Homo sapiens: one gene and its partner. The protein of the gene in region 1 purifies or fractionates together with the protein of each later gene. This does not show direct contact. Each region holds a gene or a part of one and is shown in the gene's direction. Other genes may lie near its edges. The genes, in order: C3orf52 and LIPH.

The links.
Region 2: the proteins of C3orf52 (region 1) and LIPH purify together in Homo sapiens (affinity purification with mass spectrometry; 3 studies listed by BioGRID and IntAct, with this or other methods). This does not show direct contact.

What each region holds. Positions count from the first base shown.
Region 1 is NC_000003.12:112,107,119-112,123,009, forward strand, and holds the end of C3orf52 (TPA-induced transmembrane protein), read left to right. Parts: intron 1-2,424; coding exon 2,425-2,495; intron 2,496-5,682; exon of another isoform or gene 5,683-5,780; intron 5,781-5,845; coding exon 5,846-6,027; intron 6,028-9,523; coding exon 9,524-9,528; coding exon of another isoform or gene 9,529-9,880; 3' UTR 9,881-11,092; downstream 11,093-15,891. UniProt on the Homo sapiens protein: Has a role in LIPH-mediated synthesis of 2-acyl lysophosphatidic acid (LPA). LPA is a bioactive lipid mediator involved in different biological processes, and necessary to promote hair formation and growth.
Region 2 is NC_000003.12:185,503,629-185,519,519, reverse strand, and holds the end of LIPH (lipase member H isoform 1 precursor), read left to right. Parts: intron 1-210; coding exon 211-378; intron 379-2,357; coding exon 2,358-2,453; intron 2,454-4,998; coding exon 4,999-5,110; intron 5,111-7,822; coding exon 7,823-7,996; intron 7,997-10,642; coding exon 10,643-10,730; 3' UTR 10,731-13,258; downstream 13,259-15,891.

The sequences.
Region 1 (15,891 bases):
CCACTCCATATGTTACCTTAAAATTTTAACTTAAAAATTTGCTGAAAGCCTGTTATGTGCAAAACACTGTGCTGGGCCCTAAAGATTAATAAAGGAAAGAAGGGAAGGAGGAAGCAGAGAAGACTGGAAGGAAGGATAAATATCACCTTTGCCATAGGAAGCTCAATCCAAAAGGAAGAGAAAGACATGAGTGCTTGACATTAGTGCTTGAAAAGATTCTCCTCTGCAGCATCCTCATCCTCCTCTCCATCACAGCATCCCCGTGAAAGCTGCTTTCCTAGTTCCCGAGTTTTCTAAATGACTGTCAGCCTATCGGCAACATCCTGTGCATTGGGGCTTAAGAGCTGTACAATGACTCAGTCATTTTCTCCGAAAGTTTTTGTCACTTTAAGCTTCTTTCCTCCTTGATATTCAGGAGACACTTTCCTTCACTGTATATATATCAATTTCTTCTTCACTGGGTAGTGTGGTCAGATGGGAAGAAGCTGGTTTTTAGTGTTCATAACATGTAGGATTGAATTTTGGCTTCTCCTTTTACTAGCACAGTGACCTGGGACAGGTTTTCTTCATCTCATGGAATGGAGTGCTGTTTAATTTTCCAGTAAAAAGGGGAGATATATTAATGCCTGTTTTGCCAGGTTTTTATAAAGATCACAACAGTAGTGACAAGATTAGAAGAGCAGAAATAGCAGGCACTCTCATCTTTTGTTCTCTTTGAGATATGGGTTGTACATGTTGAGTTAAATGGGAGTGTATTGTGGAAGTGCAGCGTCCTTGACATTCCATTTGGAGTTGAGGGGAAACAGGGTAAGCTCCCCATAGGGCACTGCTGTTTTTTGTATGTTCGACTGCTTGTTATTGAATAAAGTAATAGGTCATTAAGCCATAATGGCTGTAGCTGGGGATGGCACATGTTCCTAGTACTACTAGTTTAGGATTCAGATATCTGAAACACAACTACTCAATGCCTGGGAAAAGATACTTGTAACATAATATCAACAACTAGTATCCAGAATATAAAACTAACCACTTCAGATAGATAAGAAAAAGACAGATAAGCCAAGAGAAGGAAAGGAAATGAGTGAGAAATTCAGAGATGAAAAGTCCCAAAGAGTTAATAAACATGAAAAGATGTTCAACCTCACTAGTAAGCGAGGCAGTACAAATTAAAACAATGTGAAGCACTATTTTATACTCCTCGGAGTGGTAAAAATTTAAGTTTGGTAACACTAAGTGCTGGTAAGGATGTGGGAAATGGATATTTATACATTGCTGGGAGGGGTGGGAAAGGGAGAACAATTTTGTGAAGTTGGAGATGCACCTACCCTTAAACCCAACAATTCCTTTTCTTGGCATATGCCCATTGGAAACTCCCGCATGTCCAAGAAGAGATGCATGGAGACATTAAGGATGATTGCTTCAGCATAAGTTGTGATGGGGAAAATTGAGAATAGTGCATGTGATCATCATCAGAGGAATGGATAGGCTGGTATACTCATTTAAAGGAATCTGTGCAGGAGTTAGGTGAATGCCTTTCATTGAGATTTACTTTATGGGTAAATCTTAAATGTAATTTTGAGTGAAAAAAGGCAAGTTTTAGAAGATTATGTAGAATATGGTGCCTTTTATTTGAATAAAAACACAAATTATATTTTGTTATGATTACATAAATAAGTAGTAATTTGTAAAAATATGCAAGGAAAGGATGCATGCCAGCTTCAGAATGATGGTTAGTATTAAGAAAGAGAGAGAGGAGGAACTGAATAGTATGTAGGAGTCACTTTAGCTTTATTTTGTTTCTTAAATTAAAGGGCTGAACCCAATATAGCAAATATGAAGACATGAAAGCTAGGTAGTGGAAACACAGGTGTCATTATTTTTTATGATGCTTGCAATATTTCATGCATAAAATAAAGCCTCCATATTTTTGCAGTTCCCCTCTTTGTCTCTTTGTCCAGGGGATGTGCTAGACCCATGGCTTAGCATGGCTGTTTGTCTTTACACTGAAGCTCTGGAGAAGGGAGAAAGAAGCCCTGGGCTAAGCAATGTCCCAGGTGCTAAGTGGTCTGTGCTGCTGCTGTCCAGCAGCCATTTTGGGGTCTTCTCTTCTCTCCTTCCTATGGTCTGTGAGGCCTGTGTGGGCTCCAGCTGCTGATATTCTCACCACTAAGGCCACAGGGTGCCAGTGCAACTTCTGAGAGAAACTGAGTCATTTGGTCCTTATAAATGGAGTTCTTTTGAAGTAGCATTAACTTGAGTTTTGATTTATGGTGGGCTCAATTCTTGATCCAGAGCTTCCAGATAACGTTGATTCCAGGCTGGAGTGGAATCTCCTCTGCCTTAGAAGCAGTTTTGCTTTGTCAGGTGATGTGTAATATGATCTGTCGGTAATGTGTGTGGTTTAATTTGCTTCTGTTTGTTTAGCTCACAGATGTGTACAGTACATCGCCCTCTCTGGGTCGTTATTTTACTTCAGTTGAAATAGTGGACTTCAGGTAAGAGTGTGGAACATTACATTTTGCTCTCTTTCTCTGGAAAGAGATCCCCCCACCCCACCCTTCGTCATTTACCTAGCAGGGATTCCCAGAGCCTCAGAGCATGAAGGGAACCTGTAATAGAATCACAGAATGTCAGTGCTGGGAAGGTCTTTTACACCAACAGGCTCAACTCCCTTATTTTACAAATGAGAAAAAGGAAGCCCAGATTAATGGTATAATTCAACCAGGGTCACACAGAAGAGGGGAAAAGCCAGTCCCAGGTAAACCATTTCTGTTTAACAATGAATGCTCAAATAAGCTAAGGGTAGAAGTAGAAATAGATCTCAGGTCGTGCTGTGATGCGAGTGATACATGTATAGGCATTTGCTTTTGAGGAGCACAAGTAATACAGGAGTACATTCTCCTTGTTTAGTATTAAAGATGTAAAGAGGGGCCGGGCGTGGTAGCTCACGCCTGTAATCCCAGCACTTTGCGAGGCCAAGGCGGGCAGATCACTTGAGGTCAGGAGTTCAAGACTAGCCTGGCCAACGTGGTGAAACCCTGTCTCAACTAAAAATACAAAAATTAGCCAGGTGTGTTGGTGGGTGCCTCTAATCCCAGCTACTCAGGAGGCTGAGGCAGGAGAATCTCTTGAATTCGGGAGGGGAGGTTGCAGTGAGCCGAGATTGCGCCACTGCACTCCAGCCTGAGTGACAGAGTGAGACTCTGTCAAAAAAATAAAAATAAATAAAAATAAAAAAAAGAAGACATAAAGAGGTATGCACAGGAAAAGTCTCCCTTCTGCCTCCTTTCTTCTCCACTGCCACCACCAATAACTAATGCCATTCCCTTCCATGGAGGTAATAGCTGTCAAGAGTTGAGTGTAATTACTTCTGTTCATGTATCTACCATAGGCACCACAAATACTACACACACATAGGATATACACACCCATATGTATTTTTTATTTTTTAAATTTCCTCCTCATCTTTAATGTTCTTGAGATGTAGGCATCAGGGTGTATGTGTGTAGAGTCCATTTATTATCCTTTTACATCATTGGGACTATTGGAGATGACTTAAAATTTATATCAAAGCTTCATTATCCATTATGCCTGAGATGTCTCTGGAATATGACCATCAAAAGTTGTATTATATTGAGATTCCCCCTTCAAACTATAAGTTCTCCAAACCCTAATATTAGCAGACCTGGGAGGGGAGGCACATAAAGCAGGTGGTAGGTAGCACCATGGTGTGGGGCCAAACAGACCTGAAGTCTACAGATACATATGGTGCAGGCTGCCTTTGATCTCCTTCTTTAAAGACCCCCAATGGGCTGGGCATGGTGGCTTACACCTGTAATCCCAGTACTTTGGGAGGCTGAGGTAGGCAGATCATGAGGTCAGGAGATTGAGACCATCCTGGCCAACATGGTGAAACCCCATGTCTACTAAAAATACAAAAATTAGCTGGACGTGGTGGCGCGTGCCTGTAAACCCAGCTACTTGGGAGGCTGAAGCGGGAGAATTGTGTGAACCAGGGAGTCGCAGGTTGCAGTGAGCTGAGATCGCACCATTGCACTCCAGCCTGTGACACAGAGAGACTCAAACAAGACAAAACAAAACAGACCCAGTGTACATGGTACTTACGGTGACATCTCTGCACTTTATTTCAAGAAGTCCAGGCAGAGGTCCTAAAGTATTGAATTGAGGAAGAAAAGCCATTGCTTCCCAAAGGGTGCTGCTGCACATGGGTGGGAGGCGGCTAAATCCCTGGCACATGCATTTGTGTCTACAGGGGCATTGTGACCTCAGCCCTGGACTGGCCCAGCTAGAACCTGGAAAAATGCCCTTTGGTTTATTAGCTGCTAGACTCACTCCAGTGGTGGGCAGCTGGGCGAAAGGCCCTGAAAGTTGCTCTTTTCTCAAAATTCAGCCTCATGTAAATTTACCCTGTGACCTGCCATGGGGGATTAGGATGGGCTGGCCAGGCCAGGCTAGGTGGCCTGATTTTCCCATTCAGCTTCTGACCTGGTCTTCTGAAAGTCAGACTCTGGCCCTCTTCATTAGCCAGCCCAAGTCCTTGCCCCTGGGAATGCAGGGTGGCTGGCTGTGTAGGTGTTGATCATCATTAGCGATAATTAGAGGGCAGAGCTCAGGGAACAAGTTATGACACCTGCAAACTAGGTTAGCTGGATTGCAGTTTGAAAGTGCATTTTTTGGCCCTCCTTTAGTGGCATCCTTGAAACTATGAGTTTCTTCAGAGTCCTGACTCTCCATTATTCATTTGATCTGCAGGATCTGGCACATCTCCCAGCCGTAGTAGAGTTTATAAGCTCAATTGTCAGCCACCTTGTAAGATCGAAGAGTATCGGCCTATGTGACCTGTAGCCAGAAGAGGGAGCTCTTTGCCTATCCTTAGCAGGGGCAGTGGCCTGATTCACACTAATGGGACTGGTGCATCTGCAAAACTTCCCCAAGGTGATAGTCTCAGATGTGGCCTCCTGCTCATTATTTTATTGCTGGTTCTTAATCTGGCCCATCTTAAACCAAAGTAATAGGATAACTATGAATAAACTAAATGTTGAAGTAGCATTTAAAGAGTAGCATTAGACACTAATTAATGGAGGGTAGCCCTTGATTATTTTTATTTTGGAAATGGGAAAAAATGTTCTAGGAAGATGAAAATTCCCTTTCCTTAGGTCCCATTACTGAGAGTTACAGGGCTTGGTTATCTTGCCCTAGGGGCCTCTGGAAATGGGACAGAAAAGTTTCTCACTTTGGGGACAAACCAGGGAAGCCTGATTTGTTGCTGATACACAGGGTGGTCTCTGTCAACGTTCAGAAGTTCTGGACCCAGCCAATGGTAGGAAACTTTGGCTGTGCCTTAAACATTTTCATAGGTCAAATAAAGAATTGGTTAAACTAAATATCCCTGGCACACCTTTGTGGGGGCAATGCTGAGAACATGAAGAAGGAATGTGTGTGGAGAAAAGGGGAGGCTTCCCTGGCTTGCCTTAAGGGATGAAGGCTGGGGTTGGGACAGATGGTGGGTCAAGCCTGGGATCTTCTCAGCATCTTGACTGGAGATGGGCACCTCTACCTCTACCTCTGATGGCCTCTCCCAGTGGATTCCTAGAGGATAGGTACTAGGTGGAAGGAGGAGGTTAGGATCACCTCAACTTTTTGTGATGAATCTATGGAAGAGGATTCTTATAGGACAGTATGTTCTTCCAGGACAGAACATTCTTTGCTATTTTGTACTGGAAGAACATGCAAAACTAAAAAAAAAAAAAGTTATTGCTTAAATTCATTTCTTGAGTTGCAGTATGATGCTGTTTATGTTTTAATGTCTTCCATTGCCTTTCAGTGGTGAAAATGCCACAGTAACGTATGACCTGCAATTTGGGGTTCCATCAGATGATGAAAATTTTATGAAGTATATGATGAGTGAGGAGTTGGTGCTGGGCATTTTGCTACAGGATTTCCGTGATCAGAATATACCTGGTTGTGAGAGTCTGGGGCTTGATCCAACATCCCTCTTGCTCTATGGTAAGTAGAGCAAGTAAAGAAGTCAGAGTTGTGACAATAAACAGGTGAACCAGATTGGGGTCAAATTGGCTTGGTTCGATTTGGCAACTGTGGTGACTTGGTACTGTGTCAGACTATTCATTTATTCACTCATCCCCTCAGCAGATGGTGTTGCTGTGAGGTGATGTTCCCCTCTCTGTGGAGGCTACACAGTCCGTGCCCTCCATAATTAGACAGTGTAGTTGGGGAGCAATTATGGAAAAGATAATTCAACTATAAAGATGAACATTGCTACATGTTTCCTCATGCAGTTCACCCACATTCTAAGCCCTGTATCCTACTTTACAACATGATTAGCAACCTTTATGGAGATACTGTGGTTTCACAAGAGAAGTAAGAATTGAAGAATTGGAAATAAATGATACAGCTAAATTGCTGAAAGAGTATCTCAATATGGGGAACCTATTTCTTTTTCTGTTGAAGGCCACTGAGACCATTAAGAAATTAATAGAGGGGTATACAAAGACAAGTTTATTCCTTTCCTTAGAAAATTATGACAAATTTACTTGTCAACTTTTAAAATTAAGAACAGAACAAGGAAATAGATATGTTCTTTAATAAATGTAACAAACACCCCATTTATCAGAATCTGAGAACTTTTGACACTCAGAACAAAACCTGACAGAAAGGAAGGTCAGAAGGCCAAATGGCTTCAAGCCCTCAAAATATCCTTCCATTGCTTTGTAGTGAAGCTCTGGCCTTTGCTGCTGATCTCACTTTCTGATACCTCGCTCGGAGGCTTGTTTGCTCTTATTTAGCCCCTAATGCCAACAATCTTGAATATTTTATGTTCTCATCCACAGTCCATCAGAATCACTTTCTCCACATGAGTAGGTTCTCAGTAAATACTAGTTGAATGAATGAAAGGCAAATTAGAAGTAGTTGTGGTTGGCAGCAGGTGCATTAACGGTCTAGAATCAGAAGCATGGAACAGGGGGTTAAAAGCACAAGTGTTAGTGCATAGTACAAGACAAGGTGTTTATTATGATGATGACACTGTTTCTTGAGGATGAGAGGCAAGAGTAATGTTGGCCTAAGAAGGCAGAACGTTATGTAAAACAGTTCTTAAGAATGCCATTCAGAAGGCCAAATTTTAGCTCACTGGAAGTCTCATAAATGGAGATCTTCCTCACAGAGCATCCTGAATAAAGTGTGTCTGTGGGTCAGGCAGACACTATATGTGTGTGGAGTGAAGAGATTGTGCCCCAGTTACAGGAATTAAAAAAAAAAAAAAAAAAGCCAGGCGCGGTGGCTCACGCTTGTAATCCCAGCACTTTGGGAGGCCGAGGCAGTTGGATCACCTGAGGTCAGGAGTTCGAGACAAGCCTGGCCAACATGGTGAAACCCCATCTCTACTAAAAATACAAAAATTAGCCGGGCATGGTGGCAGGTGCTTATAATCCCAGCTACTCGGGAGACTGAGGCAGGAGAATCACTTGAACCTGGGAGGCAGAGGTTGCGGTGAGCCGAGATCGCATCATTGCACTCCAGCCTGGGTGACAAGAGTGAAACTCCATTTCAAAAGAAAAAAAAACCCAGAAACCTTCAGCCTCCTCCCATGTGAAGAGGCCTGCGATGCCTGTGGGGGCTGCTGCTGTGGTGTGGTTGGTCTTGATTTTCTTAGGCCCCTTGCAAAAATTGTTACTGGCTCTTTCCAAATGGAGGCCAGGGAGATGGGCAGAGGTCTGAGGAAAGGTTTAAGAGGCTTCCAAGGCTGAGAGGTTCAAATAGTACAGGATAAAGGGCAGGCTGCTTGTGAGACCTGAGGAGGGCTCCCAGAAGACCCTGAGCTTGGCCAAAGAGACTCAGCTGTTTCCCCAGGGCTTGGTGCTCCAGCAGGTGCTGGGAAGGCAGCTGTGAGTGGAACAAAGTCTCTGCTCTTCTGGAAATTGCATTCTTTCTCTCAGACATTTCTTCTGACGGGACATGCTGAGAAAATGTGGGGTTTTCTGTGACCCCATGTCCCACTTTCCAGAGCATGAATGTGCAATATTTGAGCCATTTTATGTTTTCAGAATGTGAGTGTCACTGCCCTCTCAAAGGGAAGGGTGCACAGAGAAGCAGTTGGGAAGTGAGGAAAGAAGAAGAGGGACTCATCGCAGGCATGCAGGCAGATGGGGGATGAGCTCAGAGGCAAACTCTAGAGAAAGGGAAAATGTGTCAGGGAGAGGCCCAGGGCCCTGGGAGGGACCAAGAGGGATGGAATGAGTTCTTACGCCAGTTTCTACGTGCTCATGAGCTGTGGGCTTGGGGGATTACCATCCCCGCCCTGTGATTACCCAGGCAACTAGTTTCCCACAATGGTAATGTTCTTAGTCTTCAAAGAGCAAAGATTCTTAAAATTGTTTGGTTTGTGTGCTCCTTAGAGAATTTGAAGACAGCTGTGTACCTTCTCCCCAGGAAAAAAAAATGTACCTACTTCTCCCCACAACACAAAATTGTACAGACAATTTCAGGGATTCCGAGTATTTCCCTGAGGCCAGCCTATGGTCCATTTGGGGTTTGTATATGTGCGCTTTAGAAGCAGAATCCAAAATTAGATTGTAATTTAGATTCCTGAGGGGTTTTGTGTGTGTTTGCTTCTCATTCTCTAATTTGGAAATACGGCGATTATTTTGACCTGACTGCATGCATATTTGGATGCCTTATAAAAATAAAAACTTAAAATATAATGATAAAGGAATTTTTTAAGTCCATCATCCCTCACCCTTCCCTATCTTTGGTCTTCTTCACCTCCTAGATGAGTGGGGCCCTGGGCTAGGAGGGGGAAGTCTGTTTTACAAAGGTCGAAGAATAGGTCAGCATCATGAGTTATTTTGGACACAGAGGAGGTACTTGGTACTGTTCTCACATGGGAAGGAGTCAGCTAGTAGACTGAGTAGGGAAAAAGGGCAAAACCAGGATTTTTGTGAGAGAGAAGAGGAAAAAGCCCCAGGTAGGGAGAATAGTGAATCTTGTCAGTCCTGTCAGTGGTGGCGAGGCTGGACTCCTGGTCTGTAGACCCCGGCGGGCTCCCCCTGTGTTGTGTCTGCTTGGGGCTTTGCATCTGCACCTGCTGTGCCCTAGGGTTCACACCATTTCTCTCATCAGAATTTCTCACAGTATATTTTACACGTTTTAAAAACGGAAATTTTAGAGTTTATGGTTAGATTATGAAAAGGGACTGGATGTTAAAATGTCCTTAGCACCCAAAAACCACATCATCAAAATTATTTCTCATGCATCCTACCCAAACAAATAAGCAAGAAACAATAAATGTCATTTGCCTTTTGAAATGTATTCAGAGCGGTGTGTGTGTGTTGGACTGAAGACTAAATTTCCTCTGTTAGGAATGTATAAACCTTGCAATTTTATCTAAGATTTTACACTAAAATTCAATGAAATGAAATGAAAACGTAAGCATTTAATAGTGGTTTTAAAAATCAGTAACTTTTGTTCATCTGTGTTTTCTTTTTAGAATGAAGTGATGGAGGCTGGTCTCTGTCTGAAAGCAGTGCTCTACCAAGTCCTGGAGATGAAGGGAATTCACTCTGTTTTGCAGAAAAGATTCTGTGGATTAATACAGAAGCACCAGCAACACCAGAGGGGTGGAGACTCCTTTCTCTCCCGATTCTACAGTCTGGCTCTAAGCCCAGTAAAACAGCTCCCGAGCACTGCTTCAGCTGGGTCCAGTCTTGACAAAGGCAGGAAGCCAGCTAGGGTGGGGGCGATAGGGTCAGCGGGTATGTCCCACTGTTGGAGGTCACTGGTATTCTGTTTGTTTTTGTTTTGTTTCGTTTTGTTTTTTGAGACAGGGTCTCGTTCTGTCGCTTAGCTGGAGTGCGGTGGCGTGATCATGGCACTGCTATTCTTGAAGCACTCCACCCACCTGGGCTACTTTTTCTTTAGTGCAGAGGTGCACTGTCTTCTTTTAGGTGGGATCGCGTAAGCATGAGCTGGTAGAGCACGGAGAGGCAGGCAGCCAGGTTACGAAGACTAAGCCAATTATTCACTGAAGTCATCCTCCTCCCCCCCACCATTCGATTTGATCTACCTCTAAGCCAGGCTGTGAAGAAAAGGAAGGCACTTTAGAAGACCTCAGCAGTGTGGTTCTGTGTCTACTTCCATGACCTGTACCTGAGTATCTTAGCCAGCCAGCCTTAGGAACACCACCAAGGTTACTTTGAAATCTATGTATATAGCTAGTTACAGACGGGAGCTATGTGTTTCTTCATTATTTTGCAGCTCCTCGTTGTTCCTGTGATTCCTGAACACCTTTTTGGAAATATGGGTCTCTGTGAGTTTTGAGCACACTACTATCACTTTGGATAGTCACTCCATTTATATTTTTATAAACTTCCATTAGAGAATCATTAAGGCTGTTTAATATCTGCTCTGGATATTACGCATTGGCTTTTTGTTGCCTAGTGCTACAAACCTTCCTGTGGGACTCAGTGTCTTCAGGCAATGATTGTGTATCCTGTTACAGATGGTTGTGATACAAGAAGAACCACTCTTCTTTGAAAATAAACTCTTGGAAGCTTTTGCCAGCTATTTGGGGGGTAGGAGGAATATTAGCAACTGTATTGGTTGTCTACAGATACAGAATTGCCTGTTGTGAGGGAACTGATTGTTTTGTTGGGAAAAGAAATTTACCAGGAGAAAGAGTTTTGTGCTGTATTGTGAGAGATCTCGCCTCTCAGTTAAATGAGCCCTGGGTTAAAGTCAGTGTGAAGGGCAGCTGTGTGCGGGCACGAGCCAGAGTGTCTGCCTCAGACTAGATTTGACTTGAGTTCTTTATGACCCAGGACTCTGGATAATGTGAATTTGCTTTCCTATTTAACTAGAAGATACATGTACTATAGATCATTGTCTCATTTTAGTGATTGTTCCTTAAACTAGTGAAACTAGTGGATTTCTCTTCTTCCTCTTTATTTTCTGCATGTTAAATGTGAACCTTAGTGTATTTGTATTTTGTAGAAAATAATGAAAAATTTTAATGGAGAATGATTTAAAAACATTTACAATACATTATTTTTGCATCTGTGTTGTTGCATTCCCATTGGCTGAGCTTTGGGCTGGGTTTTTGTTTGTTTGTTTTTTGCAGTAAATGGTGTTGAGCATAATTTTTTTCATTTCCCTTAGGGCAGCTTCCTCTTCTGGGTGAATAAGATCAAGCCAAGTTTGGCTGGGGCGGCCTGGGTTCTCCCCTCTGTTCCAGCAAGAGCAGGCAGAGGCCATCCCCTCCTCTTTCTCTGAGGCCCTCTCTGGCAGGACTTGGTATCTGAAAGGGCTTGGACTTGAAGGAACAGCCTGTTCATGTCTGGAGGCAGGATTTGGTTTTGTTCTTCCCTTCTTGTTCAGAAAGCACCAAGATGCAAGTACCTTGTCTTGGGTTTTGACCATTTGCAAGTCATAGAGAGGACTTTCCATAGATTTGACTTTTCTGCCCAAATGGTATGGGAAAAAACTAACCTTTGTGACTAACATATTTGGTGGTGTTTGAAAAAAAACGGCCCTTACAAATGCACTGTTCTGCTATAGGAGATAAATCTACTGGTCATCACACAACATCATGATGAGCATAATGCCTGGTACATAGTGAGGTTTTAATAATTGAAGGATTTGAGAAGAAAACTGCTCTTCTCTGGATGTCACTTAGATATGGATAGAATGGCAACAGCCATATCAGCAGAACCTGCTCCTGTTCCTCTGCCAACAAAAATTCCAGCCATGTGTCTGATTCTTTTTTGCCTTTCAATTTAATTTAGTTCTACAGATTTGAAAAAATGATGTGTTTTATGGAAGGCTATGGGGATACTAGTGGAGAAGACAACAATAAGAAAAGAAGCTGTTAGTCTTATTAAGGAGTCAGGATCAGTACAGATGAAACAGGAAACAGCAGAAAAAAATACCCAGGGGTCAAAAACAAAGGCAGTCTGGGCGCGGTGGCTCAAGCCTGTAATCCCAGCACTTTGGGAGGCCGAGGCAGGCAGATCACCTGAGGTTAGGAGCTCGAGACCAGCCTGACAAACATGGTGAAACCCCATCTCTACTAAAAATTAGCCAGGCGTGGTGGCAGGCGCCTGTAATCCCAGCTACTCAGGAGGCTGAGGCAAGAGAATCGCTTGAACCTAGGAGGCAGAGGTTGCAGTGAGCTGAGATCACGCCATTGCACTCCAGCCTGGGTGACAAGAGTGAAACTCCATAACAAACAAACAAACAAACAAACAAACAGAAACAGTAGGGTTGCGGGTGGTCAGAGAAAAGAGTGGTCAGTATAATCAGAGGACGTTTTTTTGTAGGAAGTAGGACTGAAGCCGAATCCTGAAGCACTGGTGGGATTTGAATAAGAAGATTTGCCTTCCTTTACACATGTTCGTGTCTTCTTAGGATGAGGTACATATTCTCTCTTTTGTCTTTTACATGTGAATTCTGGACATGAATCCTGTCCTATTCAGAGTCTGATCAATGCTAAGAAAAAATGGGAGAAATCTCTCAATGTCCTCCTTCTCCTCTCCCATCACTCTTTCATTGCTTTAAAATAAGTTAATTTACACTGCATTGTGAATTAACAATTGCTGCATTGTTGGCAGCTTTATCCACAGACATCCTTGAATCTTTCCTTTGTGACTAGAGATTACAGACTCAGCTTCAAAAGGCACCTCCCTCATCTCACAGTTGGGAAATCAAATTCTGGAGAGCTGGGAGGACCAGCCCAGAGTTCCACAGCTTGTTGAGGGCAAAGCCTAGCCCACAGGGCAACCACATACTATGAATGGCCACCAGCTCAGGTAGGATCCCCAGAGGCAGGCTCAGTTCAGGCTTAGCTGACATCTGGGAATCCCTAAGGAGCACAAGTGATCAGGGGTCAGGGGTGAATGGAGAGGGAGGGCCCTCAGACTGCAGGAGGCTTTCTATGATGATGATGACCTCTCAAGGCTTCACCAAGTGCCTTGCAAAAGAGAATTCTGTAGGAAAGTAGACGGAATTTACACTGGTCCACTTCACAGTTGGCAGAGCCAAGGTACACTCAGATCAAGTGGGTTTCTGAATTGAGGCTATAGGCTTGGAAAAGAACAGAGATAAGTGGAAACAGAATCTACTTTTCCCTGGAGCCCTTGTGGAATCCTGGAGACTTCTATTTCCTGTTCTGTCCATGCCCTTCCCCATCCCTGAGACTATCCGAAGCATCTATCACTCAAGTTTGTCCTAAAAAACGTTAGCATTTCAACTTGTTGTCAACAGATTTTCCCGCCCTATCTTTGCCCTCTTCCTATTTTTCTCTTCTGTTTTAAATAAGAATTTATTCACAGAATAAGGGATTATTTATAGATGCTAGTATGTACGTGAAACGGAAACCACAAAGTCTGCAGTTGTGGCATAAATTGTGCCTCTGAATTTTGGCTATGTAGTTTTAAGACCAGCATGAGGGAGGAGGAGTTTTCTGGTTATATTTGTGGCTCGAGAGAGTAATTTAAATGCTCAGGCTCAGGTTCTTTATCAGGGACAGGGACTCTTTCACTGAGGGGTTGCATCCCTAACCCCCGCACACATCGTATACAAATGTGTGTGTATGTGAATGTGCATTTTCTGCAAAGGGAGTGCACAGCTTTCATTAGAAATCATGAAATGTAGGGGAAACAGGATCAGTGTTACATACAGACATAGTGGGTATTTTGGGACATTAAAATTTATTTACTGGAAATTTGAGACATCCTACATATTAAGTATATTACACTCATATCAGAATTTTTTAACTCTTTTTTTGTTCTTAATATTATTTTTGACTGACAAATCATAATTGTGTATATCATATTGGGTATCTTGAAGCACTCCCAAATGGCTCCCCTTGCTCAAAAGTAATTCCCTTTCATAATCCCTCTTATAATTCCCTCTTATAAATCCCTGTTATAATTACATTATAAGAACAACTTTCTTTGGTTAAACATTTATATTTAATGTGTCCCTGATAAAAGGCATATACTGTTTGGGACAGATAATGCTTTCACAGGATAAGGTTCAAACAAATATAACTTACTATGTCATACTAAGAATATTTCAACCAGTCTACTTCCACAATGGTCCAGTGGCCATGTGAAAAATTCTAGCATAAACTCATTGATTTGGTGTTTCTACCTTGCTGGAGGACTGCTGGGTGACCCTGAATAGCCAGCTGTATCAGCATGGTTTTTTTCCGTACATCATAAAAGATTTTTGTTTCTCTATGCTCTTTGATATCATTTATTCGGCATCTGTAATAGATGATTGCCTGCATTAGATGTAATCCTCCTGTTGATGGTGAAGAAGCTGAGCCTCCAAGTAGCATGTTCAAAGTCACAGATGGAGGAAGAGAGAGAACCAGGATTTGAGTGACTGATGATCTGTCGCTGGGTCTACACTCTTTCCTCTAAGCCATGTTACATCTTGTACAATATCCACTGCTAACTGAATATTTCCTTTTGAGGATCTGATCCTGGCCAAGGATCAGCTAGAGTTCCAAGTGAAAGAATTTTGCTAAAAGTAGGAAGTTAGCAGAGGAAGAGATACCAAGATGCAGCTGGCTCTTTAGCTGAAGACCATCACCTGGCTGAAGGCTCCACAAACCTGTGACACATGCAAGCTCAAGCCATTGCATTTCTCCTCTTTTGGGAGTCAGCACATTTTACATAGGAAAGTTATTTAGCTTTGGTTAACTTTGAGAAGAAAACAGTAACTAAACATAATGTACCAGGTTCCCTGTCGCTTAGCTGGTCCAAGGGCCTGTCTAGTAAACATAATGTACCTACTGCTTTCTTAAACAAACCTCTTTTAAAACAAACTATTTTAGCATCCCTAAAATTAGGACAGTAGCCGTGAGTTAAATAAAACAGCAAGTGGAAGACACAGGTGTGAATACAGAAATAGTAGAATTTGCTAAATTGCCTTGGTCTCACTTATCCATTTGTGATTTAATATTTTTATGCCATTTTATTGGTGCTTGCTCTTATGCATCAGTAACCAAACACATTTCTGTTAAGTTTCTCTCAAACTATAATCATTTAGGGCAGGTGTCTGCAAACTTTTTTTCCAAAAAGTGCCAAAGTATATTTATTTTGGCTCTTTAGGGCCTATGGTCCATGTCACAATTACTCAACTCTCCCATGGTTGAACAATCATAGATAGTAGGTAAACAAATGAGTGTGGCTGTGTTCCAACAAATCTTTATCTATAAAAACAGGGAGTGGGCTAGATTTGGCCTGGGGGTTATAGTTTGCTGATCCCTGGTTTAGAGGATAGATATAATTTGAGGAACACTAAGGAAAAGATAAGAGAAAGTAAATAATCAGGACACATAGAGGAGTGCTTATCAGAGAAGGTATATATGTGTTAATTTCCTATGTGGACATTTTATTCATATTTTATACATGACATTATTAAATATATACATTTAGTATACATTTAATATATTGCAGAGGGCTTTCTATTTAGCATACTGGGGGAGCACTAAATTGGAAGTCAGTAGGAAATCAGGCTCCAAATTAAGTTTTGCCACTAACTTTAATGTATCATTAGGCAAATTATCCTCTCTGAGCCAAAGAAGGGTAGTGGGATTACGGGATCTCCAAGGATCGTTCTTCTTAACATTGTCTGATGGCATAATTGTCTTATTAAGATTTCTAGGGAGAAATACAAAGTTAAAAATAAAATCATATAGGTTAAAATTATGTAAACATCTGGCCTAGAGCCTCTTGATTCAACTCACATAACTAACCAGACCATGGGGGCCAACAGGTCAAAGGACACTATGTAAAAGACATGACTTAGACACATGGAGTGAGAGGAGCAACACAGGCTCCCATGGGT
Region 2 (15,891 bases), about 73 Mb from region 1:
CTTGCCACAACCTTAATTTGATTTCATCTTTTCTCCTCCCACTTGCCAGCATGAATTCTTATCTATGGGATTTTATAAAGATTAAATGAAATAAAATACACTGAAAGAGCGCAGGGCCAGATGAGAAATTGTGTGTGTATAGAATATGTGATATAGTATTACTAAATGCTTCAACCGCTCTACTCTTTCATCACTTCTTTTACAACCAAGGATTTCAGTATTTTAAATGTGACCACCAGAGGTCTGTATACCTGTACCTGTCTTCCCTGAGAGAGAGCTGCACCATCACTGCGTATCCCTGTGACTCCTACCAGGATTATAGGAATGGCAAGTGTGTCAGCTGCGGCACGTCACAAAAAGAGTCCTGTCCCCTTCTGGGTAAGTCTAACCAGCAGTTTCCTCTCTGATTCACAAAGAACTAATTTTTGGTATGAATCCCAGAACCACTTTATCATGTAAAAACTGGCCCCATAATTGTATTAAAAACTTGTTTTTCTGCTGGGCACAGTGGCTCATGCCTGTAATCCCAGCACTTTGGGAGGTTGAAGCAGCTGGATCACTTGAGGTCAAGAGTTTGAGACCAGCCTGGGCAAAATGGTGAATCCCTGTCTCTACAAAAATACAAAAAGTAGCCGGGTGTGGTGGTGCGTGCCTGTAGTCCCAGCTACTCGAGAGGAGGCTTAGGTGGGAGGATCACTTGAGCCCAGGAGGTTGAGGCTGCAGTCAACTGAGATCATGCCACTGCACTCCAGCCTGGGTCACAGAGCAAGACCCTGTCTCCAAAAATAAATAAATAAAAGGTTAAAATTTAAAAAAAAATTTCTTAAAAAGAAAAAAATTTTAAAAATAGACTTTTTTTTTCTAGTCAGCTTTTTCTAGCCAATTTGTTCTTTGAACTACTCTAGTCTCCTACTAATAAACAGTGTTAGAAAGCAATGTAGACTGGGCATGGTAGCTCACGCCTGTAATCCCAGCACTTTGGGAGGCTGAGGTGGGCGAATCACAAGGTCAGGAGTTTGAGACCAGCCTGGCCAACATGGTGATATCTCATCTCTACTAAAAATACAAAAAAATTAGCTGGGCATGGTGGCGGGCGCCTGAAATCCCAGCTACTTGGGAGGCTGAGGCAGGAGAATCACTTGAACCTGGGAGACGGAGGATACAGTGAGCTGAGACCGCGCCATTGCACTCCAGCCTGGGCAACAAGAGTGAAACTCCGTCTCAAAAAGCAAACAAACAAACAAAAGAAAGAAAAAAGAAAAGAAAAGCAACTGTAGAGTATTCCATCCAGAAGGCAGTACAGCCTCCCTGGACCCTCTATTCTAGCATGGAAAAGAAGGTTACAGAAGAGTTTCCAAGCTTACCCAGGGTACAGTCACTCTACGTAGCCTGCTCCTGTGGGGACAGGAATACCCTTTCTGTGCTTACAACCTCTCTGCTGGGAGAGGGTCCACAATGAGCCCAGAGACTCTCCTGACAAGTGAACTTTTTCACAGACTCATGTCTATGTAAATGCCCTCACTCCACATTCTGGCTCTTGTGTGCACGTACAGCAGGTGGAGTGAGGTAATAGATATTGTGGAGGCTGCTTGGATATTCGCTAGGGATTAGTACAGATATTCTAGGTGGTTAGGACTTTGAAACTGGATGGTCATGAGGATTTTCTATTTTTTTTCCAAAAGGAAAAATCCAAGTTAACAACAGGGCATGGTATAGACAAGGGGTTCTCAACCTTGATTGTGCTTTAGAATCACCTAAGGAGTTTTAACACAATACTGATGCCTGGGTCCCACCCTGGATCAATTAAGGCAGAATGTGAAGGCCATTCTCTAGGGCTAGGGACAGAGGAGAGAAAGAGGGCCCTCTGGACAGCAAAAACAAAGGAGGACACTCACCTGCTTAGTGACACAGTCAGTCATGTGGCAAGCCCAGGTCTATGCAATTTAGGGGCCCCATTGTAGTTCTTCAAGAAAGCATATTGGTTTTCAAGAGTGATGCTATTTTAGGTATGAACTTGAATCTGTTTTAATCTAGAAAATGAATGTATTACTGAAAAATGTCAGTGTTATTTTTAGTCCACACCAGTGTGTGCCACACCCCACACCTCTCCACCCTGCTACTGAGAACCAGTAAAGGGGGAAAACAACTGGAGGGTCCTGTTGCCCTTCAGCTCTTAGGGACAGGGTTGGCCAGCAAGATGGGTCACCCTGCAGGCCCTCACCATGGGGGATGGAGGTGGGATGGAGTTTCTCTCAGAAGTGGTGGATACAGTCAAACTCAATGTTCTTGCTACCTCAGTTGCTTTTATGTTTGTATAATACATATTAATCTTACAATTTTTTAAACTTGTTTCATAGGCTATTATGCTGATAATTGGAAAGACCATCTAAGGGGGAAAGATCCTCCAATGACGAAGGCATTCTTTGACACAGCTGAGGAGAGCCCATTCTGCAGTGAGTGGTGAATGTGGTTGTTGGCTTTTGCCTAACTCTCATTTTGGGGATGGCTGAGTCTCAGCTTCCTGGCTACTTCTTGGCAAATAAGAGCCATGATGAAGCATCAACTTTGGAGCTGGAAGGGCCTCGGTTGACTCCTGAGTCTACCACATAATAGCTGTGGGACCTTGGTGAAGTCATTTGACTTCTCTGAGTCTCAATGTCCTGACTGGTCAAATGGGGGTAATAATGCCTGTATTCTGGGATATTAGGTTTAATCTGATGCCATTTAAAAATATTAATTTAATAAAATCTCAACAAATCAGAGTTGTTAGTTTCACTGGATGACCATTCTAATCACTAAGATCTTCCAGAAAATTGCTTGATTCCCCAAAAGACATAAAATTAAGACTAGGAAAAATCAGGTGTCAGCCATATCTACAGGTCAGTTCCAGCTCTAAAGCAAACATGATGACCCAAAGGCCTCGAGAGGTTGAGTATTCCAGATGGGAATTAAAGGGGGCAGCCAATGATTAGACGCCTTGGGAAGCAACTAGAATTTCCTTGGGCAGATGTGTTTTTCCTACAGTCTTGTACCCATTTTCACTTTCCTTGGGAACAACTATTTTATTTCATTTTATTTATTTTTTTTGAGACAGGGTCTCACTCTGTCACCCAAGTTGAAGTTCAGTGGCGCAATCTCAGCTCACTGCAATCTCTGCCTCCTGGGTTCACGCGATCCTCCTGCCTCAGGATTCCGAGTACCTGAGACTACAGGTGTGCATCACCATGCCTGGCTAATTTTTGTATTTTTAGTAGAGACGGGGTTTTGCCATGTTGGCCAGGCTGGTCTCAAACTCCTGACCTCAGGTGATCTGCCTGCCTTGGCCTCTCAAAGCGCTGGGATTACAGGCATCAGCCACCATGCCCAGGCTATGTTAATTTTTTTTTGAGACAGGGTCTTGTTCTGTCACCCAGGCTGGAGTGCAGTGGCACAATAATGGGGCACTGCAGCCTCAACCTCCTGGACTCAAGCAATCCTCCTGCCTCAGCCTCCCAAGTAGCTGGGACTTCGGGCATGCGCCACCATGCCCAGCTAACTGTTTTTTTTGTTTCTTTTAGAGACAGAATCTCACTATGTTGCATAGGCTGGTCTTGAACTCTTGGGCTCAAGCAATCCTCCTGCCTTAGTGCTGGGATTACAGGTGTGAACTTCCATGCCAGGTGTGAGCAACTCTTTTAAAAGAGCCTGGAGGCTAAGCATGGTGGCTCACGCCTGCATTCCCAGCATTTTGGGAGGCCAAGGCGGGCGGATCACTTGAGGCCAGGAGTTTGAGACCAGCCTGGCCAACATGGTGAAACCCCATCTCTACTAAAAATACAAAAACCCCAAAAACAAAATATAAAAATTAGCTGGGCGTGGTGGTGCTTGCCTGTAATCCCAGCTACCTAGAAGGCTGAGGCTGGAGAATTGCTTGAACCCAGGAGACAGAGGTTGCCGTGAACCGAGATTACGCCACTGCACTCCAGCCTGGGCAACACAGAGAGATTCTTTTAAAAAAAAAAAAAGCCTGCAGATCACTGGGTTTCCCTCTTTCTTTGGAGCCATGTGTGGCAGCCCAGGATTTGGCACCTACCTGGTCTGTATGGGGCAAGCCCCTGAGCAAGTTGGGCCATAAAATGGCAAATCCAGGACTGACCTTATTCCTTCGTGGGACTGTCATCTCCCTGATTAGTTCCTGTTGTAGCGTGTTTTAATTTTATCTTTTTTTTTTTTAAAAAAACCCATAAGACATTATTCAGGTAACATTTGTATAGATGTACCCACATATTCACCACTTTTTTTTTCTCTGAGTCTGCTGGTTAGGGAATGCCACTTTATTTTTATTATCACCCTTTCTTGCATTTTGTAAATACAGGAAAGTGTGCTGAATAATAATGGGGAGAGTCCAGAGTATGGCAGGAACTTCAAGAAAGGAGACCTGACTTAGTCTGGGGGTCAGGAAAAGCCTTCTGGAGGAATGACATTAAGTTGAAACCTAAAAGGTGGATTCACAGAGCTGGCAAAGTAAGCGTGCCCAGGTGGGTGAAGGCCCAGGAGCCTTCACAGTGCAGGGAGTGCAGGTGGTGGAGCATGATTGGGAGAAGGATGAGGAAGGCTGAGTAGGCTGGTGGACTTGGCCCAAACTGTGGAAAACCGTCTCAGCCCTGGAGGGTCTCCGAATGGCCCCTTAGTTGGTTGAGTCTAAAATGGGCAGGAATTGATGTGAACCACACTCAGCCATAAGCCCTAAGACTTCACAATACCTGGAAACACTGGTTCAACGATGATGCCTGACCATGGTGACTGGAAACCAATGAACTCTGCTATCACTCATGCCATCTTTACCAAAGAGAAGAGAAGGGAATATTAGAAACTTCTGCCCTGGATCTTTGCAGAGAAACCAGAGAGAAAGAGAAGAAGAGACTCAGTGATTAGGGAGGTTCAGTTTTTAGGAACCAGCCCTTCAGGGGATCAGTTGGTAGTATCTCTCTCTTACCGTGTTCTCTCTCTGTTTTGCAGTGTATCATTACTTTGTGGATATTATAACATGGAACAAGAATGTAAGAAGAGGGGACATTACCATCAAATTGAGAGACAAAGCTGGAAACACCACAGAATCCAAAATCAATCAGTAAGTTGAGTTACAATTGTTTGCAGTGCGCTATTTCCCTTTTTGCTCAGAGAAATTAAATCACAAATCCACCTACTTTCTTATTTATAGATCTATGCTTTTCCTTGTTCTATAAAAGATATAAGGGGAACTATTGCTTAGTTGCTTCCCTGGTTCTTGATCTCCCAGGGTCTTTACAAATGGGATTGGTGCAAGGGTTTTCTTTCCTTCCCTCCTTCTCTTCTTCCTTTCTTTGCTTCCTCCCTTTTTCCTTCCTTTCCTCCCTCTTTCCCTCTCTTTCTCCCTTTGTTCCTCTCCTCCTTACTTCCTTTGATTAAACATGTAATACAAAAGTTATCCTTGTTTTCGATAAAGGATTTAAACAACAAATGAATATGCTGATTTAATTATCCCACATTGTATACATACATCAAAACATCTCAGCTCACTGCAACCTCCTCCTCCCAGGTTCAAGCGATTCTCCTGCCTCAGCCTCCTGAGTAGCTGGGACTACAGGCACATGCCACCATGCCCAGATAATTTTTTGTATTTTTAGTAGAGACGGGGTTTCACCGTGCTGGCCAGGCTGGTCTCAAACTCCTGACTTCATGATCTGCCCGCCTCGGCTTCCCAAAGTGCTGGGATTACAGGTGTGAGCCACCGCGCCTGGCTGATTTCCTTCATTTTTAAGGCTGAGTAATATTTGATTATATGCATATACCACATTTTGTTTATTCTTCCATCAATGAACACTTGGGTTGCCTCCTCCTCTTGGCTATTGTGACTAGTGCTGCTATGAACATGGGTGTGCAAATGTCTGAGACTCTGCTTTCAATTTTTTTGGACTTGTATCCAGAAGTGGAGTTTCTGGATCATATTGTAGTTCTCTTTTTAATTTTTTGAGACACCACTATACTGTTTTCCTTAATGGTTGCACAATTTTCCAATCCCACTGATGGTGCATACAGGATCCAGTTTCTCCACATCCTCACCAATATTTGTTATGTTCTATTATTTTGATATTAACCATCTGGATGGGTGTGAGATGATTCTGTGTCTTTTGAACATTTACATCTTTTTTTTTTTTTTTTTGAGACAGAGCCTTGCCCTGTCACCAGGCTGGAGTATAGTGGCCTGATCTCGGCTCACTGCAAGCTCCACCTCCTAGGTTCAAGCGAATCTCCTGCTTCAGCCTCCTGAGTAGCTGAGACTACAAGCGTGAGCCACCATGCCCAGCTAATTTTTATATTTTTAGTAGAGACGGGTTTTCACATGTTGGCCAGGATGATCTCGATCTCTTGACCTTGTGATCTGCCTGCCTCAGCCTCCCAAAGTGCTGGGATTATAGGCATGAGCCACCGTGCCCGGCTTCCATCACTGTTTAAAACACTTACTAACTTTCTGGCACACGGGTTTCCAGGATCACTTTGCACGTTTCCTGCCCCAGCCATGGAATCAACCATTTCTCCAGGGAGCTCTGGTTTCTTTCAGTAGAGATGGTGTTAAGAAAACAAAATCTGGGCACCTCTTAGATTAGTTTTATTTGTGGCACTTCTGTACTCCATGGGACTTAGACATGATCCCAGTGGGGTGACAGATACCTCGTCACGATTACCCCATTCCCAAAGTAAGGATTAATGTTGGGTAGGCTCGGTGGCTCATGCCTGTAATTCCAGCACCTTGGGAGGCCGAGGCAGGCGGATCACCTGAGGTCAGGAGTTCAAGACCAGCCTGGCCAATATGGTGAAACCCTGTCTCCATTAAAAATACAAAAATTAGCCAGGAGGGGTGGCAGGTGCCTGTAATCCCAGCTACTCGCGAGGCTGAGGCAGGAAAATGACTTGAACCCAGGAGGCAGAGGTTGCAGTGAACCGAGATCACACCACTGCACTCCAGCCTGGGCAACAGAGCAAGAATCCATCTCAAAAAAAAAAAAAAAAAAAGGATTAATGTCTAGAGCAAGCCTTCTGTTCCCAAAGCCAGGGGCTCCATGGTTCTTCCACCTCCCCAGAAAGACAGTGAGTGAGCTGAACCTCTCCAGTGATATGCCTTACCTTCAATTTGGTTTTCCACCTATAGAAAACATCTCTATACACTTGGATAACAGGATCAGACTCTGGATTTGCCTTTTTTAAGGTTCATCTTGAGAGGGAGAACTAAAAAAAATACATGCTACAGCACAATTCAGTTAGCATCTATTTTGGCTAAAGATATACTTAGGCATCTAGGGATGCAGTTTAACGGAAAGATCATAACTTTGAACTCAGCCAGAACTGGGTTGGAATCTCTTCACTGCTACATATAAGGCCTGTCACCTGGGGAGCTTGATCTCTGTAAGCATCTATTTCTGTCTATTAAATGAGGAGAATAATGCCCCCCTTGCGGAATGTTCTGGGGAGTTGGAGAGATGAGTCGAGAGACAAGGACATCATCTGGTGTGTACTAGGCAGTCATTAGCATCGTGCCTCTCTAATGTCATTTTGGGTCACTTACATCGCCCTTTGGAGTCAGCAGACTTTGCCCATCAAAGTTGACTAGTTCTTGGGTGGTTACTACACTCCAGCCTGGGCAACAGTGTGAACCCTGTCTCAGAAAAAAAAAAAAAAAAAAAGTCAGCTGGTGCAGGCTATGGGGTGAAATAGTTACCAGCTTACCAGTGACTTGCAGGCTTCAAAACTGCTTTCTCTCATTAGTAGTCTTTATCCATTTTTCAGTATTACTTCTTCCTTCCAGTGAACCCACCACATTTCAGAAATATCACCAAGTGAGTCTACTTGCAAGATTTAATCAAGATCTGGATAAAGTGGCTGCAATTTCCTTGATGTTCTCTACAGGATCTCTAATAGGCCCAAGGTACAAGCTCAGGATTCTCCGAATGAAGTTAAGGTCCCTTGCCCATCCGGAGAGGTGAGCTGAGGGTACGGTTTGACAAAACGCTGTTTTCCAAAGATGTTGCTGGATCCTGTCCAATCTGCTTGGTCTGATGTGTTAATAAGACTCTATTATTCACAATGAGGGACATGATGGGTTTTCCAAAAATAGTTTTTATTATAAACAAGTAGCCCAGGCCAAGTGTAGTGGCTCAAGCCTATAATCTCAGCACTTTGGGAGGCCAAGCTGGGAGGATTGCTTCAGCTCAGGAGTTCTAGCCAGCCTGGGCAACGTATGGAGACCCTGTCTCTACAAAAAAAGAAAAAAAAAACAACCCAAAACAGAAAGCAAGTGGCCCAGCCCACCTGCATTTGATGGTACATGACTGTAATCCCACTACTCAGGAGGCTGAGGTGAGAGGATCACTTGAGCCCAAGAGTTGAAGTCCAGCCTGGGCAACATAGCAAGATTCTATCTCAAAATAAAAACAAAAAATTAAATAAAAAATTTTAAAAATAAAAACAGGTAGCCCAGTAATCCAAGAAAATTATACTGCATGTACTTAAAGGTAGATAAGGTAGATGGCCTAGTAATCCAAGGAAATAATGTTGTTATATGCTTAGAACTATACAGTTCTTCCCTAACTACCACACTGCTTGTAAGCTGGTAATTTGTTGTAGAAAAGAAAGCTTTGGATAATTTGGCAAGCTGATTAAACAGAGCCTAGTATAAAAAAAGGTACAGAAAATTGGAACATTTTATTCCCTTGACCACAGGCACGTCCACCACACCCAGCTAATTTTTGTATTTGTGATTTTGTATTTTTAGTAGAAAAAAATATTTTCGTATTTTTAGTTTCGCCATGTTGGCCAGGCTGGTCTTGAACTCCTGGCCTCAAGTATCCGCCCGCCTTTGTCTCCCAAATTGCTGAGATTACAGGCATGAGCCACTGTACCCTTGACAGTACAAAAGTATTATATTGAATTTCTTAAATTTGATAATGGCACTGAAAATGTCCTTGTTCTTAGGAAATATACAATGAAGTATTAAGGAGTAAACAATCTATTCTCAATTGTGCCAGAAAAAATAAACAATGTATGTTTGGGGAGAGAAAGAGAGAGAAACAGAGAAAGAGGGCGAGAAGGAGAGAAAGAATTATTATTTAAGTACAGAGCTGTGTTGACATGTATGTTTTGTGACAAATGCCAGTCTACCATATAGTCCTAGCATCTAACCTGTGGACAGAGAGGGAGACAGGAAATGATGTGAGTAGTTAGTACTTTGTGAATTCCTTTTTCTTAAAAGTTTAGGGACTGAACACGGTGGCTCATGCCTGTAATCCCAGCACCTTGGGAGGCCAAAGTGGGCGGATCACCTGAGGTCAGGAGTTCTAGACCAGCCTGGCCAATGTGGTGAAACCCCGTCTCTACCAAAAATATAAAAAATTAGCTGGGCAGTGGTGGTGTGCACCTGTAATCCCAGCTACTCGGGAGGCTGAGGCAGGAAAATTGCTCGTATCTGGGAGGCAGAAGTTGTGGTGAGCCGAGATCGTACCACTGCACTCCAGCCTGGGTGACAGAGTGAGACCCTGTCTCAAAAAAAAAAAAAAAAAAGAAAACAAAAAAAGAAAGTTTAGGGTACCTTAAAACATTTAATAGTACAAGTTTCTCCTAAGAGGATAGTCATTACATCCTAAAACTTTTTAATACTTTTTTTGCCCTGAATATCAGACAATATATGTTTATTTGACAAAATCTAGAAAGTACAGAAATTGTCAGGAAACAGAAAAATATCACCCATATTGTCATTATTCAGAGGCAACCACTGCTAATATTTATTGTTATTTCTATATAATCTTCCTTTCTTTTATTGTTTTTAAAGCTGAACTTACATGGTAAATACAATTTTACATCTTTCTTTCTTTTTTGGTACGGAGTCTCGCTCTGTCACCCAGGCTGGAGTACAGTAGTAGCGCGTTCTTGGCTCACTGCAACCTCCACCTCCTGGGTTCAAGCAATTCTCCTGCTTCAGCCTCCGAAGTAGCTGGGATTACAGGCACACGCGACCACGCCCAGCTAATTTTTTGTATTTTTAGTAGAGACAGTGTTTCACCATGTTGGTCAGGCTGGTCTCCAACTCCTGGCCTCAGGTGATCCACCCGCCTTGGCCTCCCAAAGTGCTGGGATTACAAGCGTGAACCACCGTGCCTGGCCATATATCTTGCTTTCTCCTTGGTGTTTTACTTACCATAAGCATTTTCTTTCTTTTTTTTTCTGAGACAGAGTCTCATTCTGTCACCCAGGCCAGAGTGCAATGGCGTGATCTCAGCTCACTGCAACCTCCACCTCCTGGGCTCTAGTACTGCCTTAGCCTCCTGAGTAGCTGGAACCACAGACACGCACTACCACACCCAGCTAATTTTTGTATTTTTAGTAGAGACGGGGTTTAGCCATGTTGGCCAGGCTGGTCTTGAACTCCTGGCCTCAAGTATCTGCCCGCCTCGGCCTCTTAAAATGCTGGGTGGGATTACAGGCATGAGTCACCGTGCCTGGCCACCGTAAGTGTTTTCTATATTAAAAACAATTGCTAAATAATTTTGTATCTTAAGGATATAATATTATTTACTAGACCATTGCATTTTTATAAATTCATTTACAAGGATATTTTGTCTTATTTTCCCAGGCCTCAGCTGTGTCGGTATGATCTTGTCCTGATGGAAAACGTTGAAACAGTCTTCCAACCTATTCTTTGCCCAGAGTTGCAGTTGTAACTGTTGCCAGGACACATGGCCATAAATAATAGAAAGAAAGCTACAACCACAGGCTGTTTGAAAGCTTCACCTCACCTTTCTGCAAGGCAGAAAAAGTATGAAAAAAACCAAGGCTTTTTTCAGTAGCGTCCTATGGATGTCACATTGTACATCAAACAACCTTGTGATTATAAAACGATCCTGGGAAGGAGCCCCTAACTAGGGCAAGTCAGAAATAGCCAGGCTCGCAGCAGCGCAGCGCTGTGTCTGCTGTGTCCTGGGGCCTCCCTTGTTCCGACCTGTCAATTCTGCTGCCTGTCACGCGGGTGGTTCTGCCCATCGCGGCTGCGGGTCAAGCATCTTCAAGGGAAGGACGGACTGGAGGCCTCACCGTGGACTCAACTCTGCATTCTCCGTGCCACATTCCTCCAGTTCCCACACGTAGAAGGGAACGAAACTGACGTCTACCTCATGGGGCTGCTGTGTGGGTTTGGGAGGCAAAAATCTATGAAGGGTTTTTTGAAATCCCATAGGTGCCACATCTATGAGATGTTTGATAAATGTGAATATGCTTTTACATTTGGGCTTATCTAATTTGCAATAAGAGAGCCTCTCTCTATCAACACCAGCTTCTCTCTCGGGCTGTTTGCTCAGGGAAGGCAAGAAAGCCACGTGCTGGCCCTCTGCCTTCTCTAAAGTGCTGTTGGAGCATGGAGGAGCTGGAGGAGATGGGGATGGACTGACAGCTAAGAGGGCGGCTGCTGGGACTAGATAGTGGATGAAGAAAGAAGGACGAGGAAGCCGTGGGGCAGCCTCTTCACATGGGGACAGGGGATGGAGCATGAGGCAAGGGAAGGAAAAGCAGAGCTTATTTTTCACCTAAGGTGGAGAAGGATCACTTTACAGGCAACGCTCATTTTAAGCAACCCTTAAGAAATGTTTATGTTTCTTTATTACCAATGTAATCTATGATTATTGAAGGAAATTTAGAAAATGCGTAGATACAAAATTAAAAAAAAATACTGTCCACGATCCTATTAGAGGTAATTAATGTTAGCCTTTTGGAACAAGGCTGTCACCTATTTTGCCAACACGTGAATTCAAAACATGAACCGGTTTGCTTTTGGAGAATCTGAAGACTCCAGTTTGAGGAATCCTTTGCTTCCCTGGAGGTAGATGCTGTCTGCAAATCTAGAATGACAGCAGGAGTCCAGTCAAGAGGTCCTGTCAGGCCAAGGCCAGAAAGAAGGGAGGACAATCCCTGGGGCCAGATGCCCAGTGTGAGGGGAGGCATGATCTGTCCCATGGCTGTGGCCACTGCAGGAAGGTCTGTGAAAAGGAGGTGACAGGCCCAGTCACCTCCTCTTCACCCAAGTGATTGCTCCTTCAACTGCTATCTGTGAAAATAGCCTTTGTTATGAAGAAATTGACTCTCTCTCTCTTTTTTTTTTTTTGGAGTTGCCTAGGCTGGAGTGCAATGGTACGATCTCAGCTCACTGCAACCTCCACCTCCCAGGTTCAATTGATTCTCCTGCCTCAGCCTCCTGAGTAGCTGGGATTACAGGCATGTGCCACCACACCCGGCTAATTTTTGTATTTTTATTAGAGACAGGGTTTCACCACGTTAGCCAGGCTCGTCTCGAACTCCTGTCCTCAGGTGACTACCCGTCTCGGCCTCCCAAAGTGCTGGGATTACAGGCATGAGCCACCACACCCGGCCAAAAATGGATTCTCTATGTCATAAATTAAAGAAATCTATAAATGTATTCCTGTGTGGCACATCTTCTTACAGATTTACATTTGCAGCAAATACAGAGTCTGTTTTATTTAAGTGAGGGATGACTGAACTCTGAGTGGAACAAGCTCTTGGACATGTTACCATCCTTCCTCCTCCTTCTCACATTTCCTCAGCAATTGTGGATAGAGAGATCAGTGTGCTGTAGGCCCTGGTTTTTTTTTTTTTTTTTTTTTTTTTTTTTTAGATGGAGTCTCCTTCTGTTACCCAGGCTGGAGTGCAGTGGCACGATCTTGGCTCACTGCAACCTCTGCCTCCCGGGTTCAAGCAATTCTCTGCCTCAGCCTCCCAAGTAGCTGGGATTACAGGCGCCCCCACCATGCCTGGCTAATTTTTGTATTTTTAGTAGAGACCTGGTTTCACCATCTTGGCCTTGAACTCCTGACCTTGTGATCCACTGGCCTTGGCCTCTCAAAGTTCTGGGATTACAGGTGTGAGCCATCGTACCCGGCAGCCCTGGTTTCTTCTTAGTTTTATTGGTCTGTGTTTTGATCAGCACAGTCACTTTTTTGTTCTCTTTCCTGGTAAGCAGGGAGTCAAAACAATAGCAAGAAAATGCCAGAAATAGAATTTCTACTACTTTGTAAACTCTAGGCTCGTGGGTCTCCTAGCTCTCAGTACCTGGCTCACTGTAGGATGGGTAGATGGGTGAATGAATGGATAAAGAAAGGAAGTTTGTTCACCGGAGAGGAGATGAATTTCAGTAAGTTTCATGTAACAGTGATCAGGAGAAATAAAGGCAGTTATAACTGTGGCCACTCTGTTCTCAGAATCTTTCTTCCAAGGGCCCCTGGAACTTTTGACTGTCTCTTGTTATCCTTGCTTCTCTTCCCCTCTCTTTCTCAGTACCATATATCTGTCTGAGTGCCAAATTCAAAGCACAATTAAATTACAGTCTACCCTCTTCCCTCCCCTCTTCACTGGTGACCTCCTACTCATCATTTGGATCGTGGCTCAATTGCCACCTCCTCAGGGAGTCTTCTTGGACCTTATTTCCATACAGAGAGGTTCCACACTGTACCTCTCCTTCATAGCACTTTTTAGTTGTATTTTTAAACATTTTTTCTTTTTTTTGAGACGGAATCTCACTCTGTCACCTAGGCTGGAGTGCAGTGGTGCAATCCTGGCTCACTGTAACCTCTGCCTCCTGGGTTCCAATGTTTCTCATGCCTCAGCCTCCCAAGTAGGTGGAACTACAGGCCAGTGCCACCATGCCCAGCTAATTTTTGTATTTTTAGTAGAGACGGGGTTTCACCATATTGGCCAGGCTGATGTCAAACTCCTGACCTCAAGTGATCTGCCTGCTTCGGTCTCCCAAAGTGCTGGGATTACAGGCGTGAGCCACCGCACCCAGCCTGTTTTTTTTATTTTATTTGCCTGATTATTTGATAAATATCTGTCTTCTCCACTAGACTGCTCTGCAAGGCAGGAGCCATGTGCTTACCATATAGTCTGCTTTCAGGAAACATTTATTAAATGAACACTCTTTGTTATTTTCTGAGCCCCATGGAACCATGTTCAGTTGTGAGTAAAGACTTGCCCTCCACCCTAGCCATAGTCTGTTTCCATGAGGGTGCCTAACCTTCTGTGCCTTAGACTTTTCTCCCAGACACCTTCATTACTATTGTCTCCATTATCTTTGGAGGCCAATAGCCCATTTCCCAGACTTCCTGGAAAAGAGAGAAGTTGGCTCCTTTGTCACTTTTTTTTTTTTTTGAGATGGAGTCTTGCTCTGTTGCCCAGCTGGAGTGCAGTGACCTGATCTCAGTTCACTGCAACCTCCACCTCATGGGTTCAAGCTATTCTGCCTCAGCCTCCCGAGTAGCTGGGCTTGCAGGCACATGCCACCATGCCCAGCTAATTTTTGTATTTTTAGTAGAGACAGGGTTTCACCATGTTGGCCAGGCTGGTCTCAAACTCCTGAACTCCGGAGATCTGCCTGCCTTGGCCTCCCAAAGTGCTGGGATTATAGGTGTGAGCCACTACACCCTGCCCCTTTGTCACTTCTTATCACATCTTCCAGGTGGTCCCAACACCTCACAAGCTCACCTGTCGAAAATCTAGGGGATTTTGTCCTTACATCCTCATTTTAGCACCATTGCCAAAATGCTCCAGGACCTTACAACATTAGTGGAGGATGCCAAGCTGTAGTTATAACCCTCCCTTGTTTGCTTTTCCATGACTCTCCTTTCCACCACTCACTTTGCTGCCAACTTCGTATGTTGTATTAGTCCCTTCTCAGGCTGCTATGAAGAAATACCCAAGACTGGGTAATTTATAAAGGAAAGAGATTTAATTGACTCACAGTTCCACATGGCTGAGGAGGCCTCAGGAAACTTACAATCGTGATGGAAGGGAAACCAAACACATCCTTCTTTACATGGTGGCAGGAGAGAGAAGAATGAGAGCTGAGTGAAGGGGGAAGCCCCTTATAAAACCATCAGATCTCATGAGAACTCACTATCACGAGAATAACATGGGGGAAACTACCCTTATGATTCAATTACCTCCGACTGGGCCCCTCCCACCACAAGTGGGGATTATGGGAACTACAATTCAGGATGAGATTTGGTGGGGCCACAGTCAAACCATATCATACGTGCTTCTGTCACTGCTGTTACGCTGTGTTGTAATTTGTTTCCGTGTCTTTAACTCCTCCAAGACTGTGACCTCCACAAGAGCAGCTGCTATTTATTTTTGGCTCTCTAGCACCTAGCACAATGCTAGGCACAGAGTAGGTGCTTGATAAATGTCTGTTGGACAGAATGGAATGGATGATGCTTAGAAACTTGAGGGAATCACCTCCATTCTGACTTAGACATCAACACACTTAACAATGTTATTTCTAAAGTCCTAAACTTAGAACCTCCTACCCTTGGGCTCCTGCCCCTTGCTCTCATTCCTATAGAACTCCATTATAGCCAAGGAGACTTTGGATGCAAGGGACAGGAATCCACTCACACCCCAATTTAATAGGTTATTGAGAGAGAGAGAGAGGACTTGTGGAAACCCAGGAAGAGGTGATCCACCAAATCTCAGGAAGGGCAGGGATGGGGCAGCCCTAGAGCCTTCAGCAACAAGAGTTCGTGGGCCTTTATTAACCCTAGTGCTCTGCCATGAATCTCTTTGACTGAGCTCAGCTCCCTTCATGGGGCAGCCTCATTGGGTTCTTGGCCACTCACTGACTAGGTGGCCCAATTCCAAAGTCCAGGGACAGGAAACAGCCCTTGGCTCCTCCTCCTGAGGAAGACATCTATCCAGTTCCAATCAGTCATGGTTGGGGTGGGGGTGGGGAAGCAAAATCACATGGACTTCAGAGCTATTCTTTTCAAGTGCTCTAGGCAAGTCTGATTAAGCCAGAAAAGGTTGGCTGCTCTTCACAAAGAG